Regions from separate parts of the Homo sapiens genome. Here region 1 is linked to region 2. The links come from fine-mapping of genetic effects on gene expression. Tissue or cell type: tibial nerve. Region 2 holds a variant in brackets; the other region holds the start of a gene. All regions are shown on one strand. Distances are between the middles of the regions.

The links. PIP is the estimated chance that this variant, and not a neighbour inherited with it, causes the effect.
Region 1: AP4B1-AS1 starts here. The variant in region 2 is fine-mapped to the expression of AP4B1-AS1 in tibial nerve (GTEx, PIP above 0.99). The same link has a PIP of 0.9 or more in sun-exposed skin.

Annotation. Positions count from the first base shown.
Region 1 is chr1:113,811,039-113,813,719 of GRCh38, reverse strand. AP4B1-AS1 (AP4B1 antisense RNA 1) reads right to left here and starts at 1,108. Exons shown (of 5, transcript NR_125965.1): 1 at 895-1,108. It overlaps RSBN1 (round spermatid basic protein 1), which reads left to right and starts at 1,244. Exons shown (of 7, transcript NM_018364.5): 1 at 1,244-2,010. The coding sequence starts at 1,308. RefSeq lists enhancers at 844-1,373, 1,110-1,499, 1,374-1,903, 1,880-1,969, 2,120-2,179 and 1 more.
Region 2 is chr1:113,899,655-113,902,335 of GRCh38, reverse strand. AP4B1 (adaptor related protein complex 4 subunit beta 1) reads left to right here. Exons shown (of 10, transcript NM_001253852.3): 3 at 451-581; 4 at 953-1,100; 5 at 1,936-2,432. AP4B1-AS1 (AP4B1 antisense RNA 1) reads right to left here. Exons shown (of 5, transcript NR_125965.1): 5 at 1,099-2,464. Among named protein-coding and RNA genes, the nearest start is that of AP4B1, 3.8 kb to the left of the region's middle. The variant C/T (reference allele first, on the strand shown) is at 1,059.

The DNA of each region.
Region 1 (2,681 bases), 89 kb after region 2:
TCAATTACTTCCAAATGTCTTTATCAATAAACAAATATACTAAAAGAATTCTAGGTAACCATGAGTTACTTAGGGCACCATGAGTGCATCTGTAGACCCAGCTACTCATTCCTTGAGCCCAGGAGTTGGAGGCCAGCCTGGTCAACAGAGCGAGACCTTGTCTCTTTTTTTTAAGAGTCAGGGTCTAGATCTGTCACCCAGGCCAGAGTGCAGTGGTGCGACCACTCCTCCCACCTTAGCCTCACGAGTACCTGGGACTACAGGCGCGTGTCACGACACCCAGATAATTTAAAAAATACTTTTGTAGGGACAGAGGCTCACTATGTTACCAACGCTGATCTGGAACTCCTGGCCTCATGCAATCCTCCCGCCTCGGCCTCCCAAAGCTCTGGGATTACCGGCCTGAGACACCGAGCCCCGCCCCGCCCGTCTCTAAATAAATACTTAAAAGAACCCCAGGTAAAAGCTAAAGCGAGGATGAAATTCTAAATGAATTTCTGAGCAACAACTATCCGTAGTGAGCAGTGATGATTTTTGGTGTGTTCTCCGGTAGGCACACTTTTCAAATTTATGCAATCTTATCCTTAAGATTTGAAAAAAAAAAACTTATAAAAAATCTTAAACGTGGTTTTCCATCTACAATTTTTCGCAACTGTAGGGATATATTCAAAATAAATGCTGGACATTTCCAGGCATTAGAGGGGATGTGGCCGGATGGCGAGGAGGGGCCGTCCTCACCAGGACTCCAAGCAGTTCTCGCACCTGACTTCGTAGGCCTGTAGTTGTAACCATAGCAATGCCCCAGATGCTTGAAAACATTTCTGAATTGCGGCCCTATCATATTTTTACAGCAAAACCACCCTTATTTTACATATTACTAAATCCTCTTTTCACCTTCATTTCATCCCTCGTCAAAGTTAAAAGGATGAAGATTCTTTTATCTCACAAAGGTTATGAGAGAAATATTAAATTTAAAATCACTGTGGAGACCACCTCCTCCGTGTAAAATGAGGAAGGGTCACAGGAAGATGATAATGGGAACGCGCCGCCAGACTCTGAAAGCCATTAACATTGTTTCGGCCGTTAGGGCGGTTGGCGGCAACTCACCGCCCAGCGGCGGTTGCGTCGCAGCCAGAAGCGTGACTTCGCGCACGCTCCCTTTCCACTCCTCCACTCAGAGCCGGGGACGCGGCGGGGGCGCGGCGGAACTACAGCTCCCATGACGCTTTGCGCGGCATAGGGTGCTTTACAATAGAAGCTCGGTTGGAGAGGCCTGCGGAGAAAAGCTGGGAACGGCCGCTTCCGGCATGTTCATCTCTGGACGAAGAACGGCCGACAAGTGGAGGGCGGAGGAGAGACTCCAATGCCCAGCGGGCAGTGCGCGGGCGGCGCTTGCGCGATGCGCGGACGGGGGGGCGGTCGGGCCATTTAAATGTGTGTTTGTGGGTGAAATGGCTGCGCAGGTCGGAGCGGTGCGCGTAGTACGGGCGGTGGCGGCGCAGGAGGAGCCGGACAAAGAGGGGAAGGAGAAACCTCATGCTGGGGTCTCCCCGCGGGGAGTTAAACGGCAGCGCCGATCTAGCAGTGGGGGGTCTCAGGAGAAGCGGGGGCGGCCGAGCCAGGAGCCCCCTCTCGCTCCCCCTCACCGGCGGCGTCGCAGCCGCCAACATCCTGGGCCGCTGCCGCCAACGAATGCAGCCCCAACTGTCCCAGGCCCTGTTGAGCCTCTTCTCCTGCCGCCTCCGCCGCCACCTTCGCTGGCACCCGCCGGGCCCGCTGTCGCTGCCCCTCTCCCGGCCCCAAGCACCTCGGCCCTCTTCACCTTCTCGCCTCTGACGGTGAGCGCGGCCGGGCCCAAGCATAAGGGCCACAAGGAGCGGCACAAGCACCATCACCACCGCGGCCCCGATGGTGATCCCAGCTCCTGCGGAACCGATCTCAAGCACAAGGACAAGCAGGAAAACGGCGAGAGGACTGGAGGGGTGCCTCTGATCAAAGCCCCCAAGAGAGGTGAGAGCAGGCAAACTGCCCGGCTTGGGTTCTAGGTCTCTCTCAGTTCCGATATCCCGCATCTTTAGGACTGAAAGACGCCAAACCCCTGCTTACCTTCTGCTGCTGTACTTCTCTAAGCTCACTGGGGTGGACCCTGGATTTCAGATCGTTGACACGGTTTGATCTAACTACTTGAGGCTTCTCGCTCCGAGGCCGAGCTGTCAGTTGCTAATCCCTTTACCGGTCCCCCGGAGCCTCTCAGCATTTGTTTTCAAATTCTGCAAGGTTTCCGCGCCGCGTTAGATTAGTAGGTGGGGTACTAAAAAATGCCTTTCCAAAGAAAAGGCATGTTCCTAAAATCCCTTCTCCTTGTTTTGCTTGCTGGAGAGCTTTAGTTATCTGCTCTCCCTTGCTCCAGAATAGTCAGGGGTATGGTTCCAGTCTTTCAGGAGGGAATTCATATAAAGGTTACACGACTCACTGGTTGACTTAGCTTCTGCAAGGTAAAATATCAGACGCAGTTTATCTTGGTTCTTTTTAATCTAGAGGTAAAAATCATTTTAAAGTTTTCATATTAGCTATTTAAATTCTTAGAATAGGCATGTGGAAGGTTTTCTCTACCCTTTGATACTAGGAAATAGGACCAACAGTGCCTCTGAAAAGTGGGAATTTGTGCAGTAGATAGTAGA
Region 2 (2,681 bases):
AATTAGGCTGGGCACAGTGGCTCATGCCTGTAGACCCAGCACTTTGGGAGGCTTAGACAGGAAGATTGCTTGAGCCCAGGAATTTGAGACCAGCTGGGCAAGATGGTGAGAGCCTATATCTACAAAAAATTAAATGGGCATGGTGACACGCACCTGTAGTCTCAGCTACTAGGAAGGCTGAGGCAGGAGGATGGCTTGGGCCCGGGAATTCAAGGCAGCAGTGAGCTATGATCGGGCCACTGGGTGACAAAGTGAGACCCCATCTTGAAAAAAACAAGAAAAAAACAGAAAAGTCAAATTATGGCTTTTTAAGCTTGATAGAGGCTTTCTGCAATTCTTCATGATCTGATGGGTGCAGCATCTACTAAACCATCTGTTAGGTGAACAGGGGCTGAGGTATGTCAAAATTAGTATTTCAGAATCTGGCTAACTCCAGGATGTGTTGCTTAGGATGCCTGGTGTGCAGGAGTATATACAACAGCCTATTCTCAATGGTCTGCGGGATAAGGCTTCATATGTCAGGAGAGTGGCAGTCCTTGGATGTGCCAAGATGCATAATCTTCATGGAGACTCTGAAGTAGGTAAGTTCAGTGTAATCCATCATGGTCAATGTGCCTCCATTATGTATAACTTTAAAAAAGATTGTGTGGCTTTGGTAGAAAATAATAATGTGGCCCCAGTTCTGTACATATCTCTTTAAGTAGGATGCAGGGCTTGGTATCTTCTGGAGATGAGAAGTCCTTTCTCTGGGGCCCCAATGAGATCCTTTGTATTAGCTGCTTAGAACAGTCTGGACATGGCAGTTTTTTTTTTGCCTTGCACTTTAGTGTGGCCTTTGTCATTTTTGTAGCAGAGAAGTTCAACTTTGTCTACCTGGAGCTATTACTCTGGCTACATCCTTGTTACTCTGAAGCTTTCCTTCTTTATCTAAGAACTTTGTTCTTTTTTATAGATGGTGCCCTGGTAAATGAATTATACAGTTTGCTGCGTGACCAGGATCCAATTGTAGTTGTGAACTGCTTGAGGTCTCTAGAGGAAATTCTGAAACAGGAAGGAGG[C/T]GTTGTCATCAATAAGCCCATTGCTCACCATCTCTTAAATCGGTTTGGATGCCTCAGCACTCTTTTTATTATGAGATCTGCTACCTTGTGGGATCTTGTTGATGTATTAAAGTATTGAACAACTTATGTGGGGTAGAAAAGAAAGTTAACCATTATTATTATTATTATTTGAGACGGAGTTTTGCTCTTGTTGTCTAAGCTGGAGTGCAATGGCGCTATCTCGGCTTACCGCAACCTCCGCCTCCTGGGTTCAAGCAATTCTCCTGCCTCAGCCTCCCGAGTAGCTGGGATTATAGGCATGCGCCACCATGCCCGGCTAATTTTGTATTTTTAGTAGAGACAGGGTTTCACCATGTTGGTCAGGCTGGTCCCAAACTTCTGACCTCAGGTGATCCGCCCGCCTCAGCCTCCCAAAGTGCTGGGATTACAGACGTGAGCCACTGCGCCCGGCCAGTTAACCACTATTAACTCCCTCACATTCCACTGAGAGAATTTCTTTTATTTGCCTTACTTTCCCTTATTGATATAGGGAAATAGAAATATACTGTGGGAATAGGTTCTACCCTTCTCTAGTCATGTCCCCCAAACTAAGCCATTTATAGTGTCTTAAAATGTAAGGAACCTGGACCCAGTGTATGCTGATCATGTCTTTGGTCTTAGAGGAGTGTGCATTTGTATTAACAACTCATCTTGGAATTTTAAGCCTTTTTTGTGTAAACTTTAAATAGTACATGAAAAGTGACTTAATTATGGCACAGCCTATTTTTAAGAATTCTCCCTTTGCTATGATGAACAACCACCTGGTCATATGGCAGTGGCATGGAAATGGTCCTAATTTTGTTGCTAAAATAGCTCTTTTGTTTTGTTTTTTGGATAGAATGTCAAAACTGGACCAATGGGGCCAGGCTGAAGTATTGAACTTTCTGCTACGCTACCAACCCCGCAGTGAGGAAGAACTATTTGACATTCTCAATCTGTTGGATAGTTTCCTCAAGAGCAGTAGCCCAGGTGTGGTGATGGGAGCTACCAAACTTTTTCTGATCTTGGCAAAAATGTTTCCCCACGTACAAACTGATGTCCTTGTGCGGGTCAAGGGACCTTTGCTAGCTGCCTGTTCTTCAGAGAGCCGTGAGCTCTGTTTTGTTGCTCTTTGTCATGTACGCCAGATCTTGCATAGTTTACCAGGTCACTTTAGCAGCCACTACAAAAAGTTTTTTTGCTCCTACTCGGAGCCCCACTACATCAAACTACAGAAAGTGGAGGTGCTGTGTGAACTGGTGAACGATGAGAATGTGCAGCAGGTGCTAGAGGAGCTTCGAGGGTACTGCACGGATGTGTCTGCGGACTTTGCACAGGCTGCCATCTTTGCCATAGGTAGGTGTCTGCTCCTTTTCCTTCTTGAGAACCTAGACCAGCCAGCAAGAAAACTGTGGTTAGAGGAACCATAGAGAGCAAAGGGCATGAATCTTGCTTCAGAAGCAAAGTACTATGCACTAAATAATTGGGTCAGTGACTACAAACACGGGGGAAGAGAGTTTTTTTTTGTTTTTTGTTTTTTTTTGGTCAAGATTGGTGTTGCTGTATCTTCCAGGATGGAGAATACAGGTAACACAAACTACAATA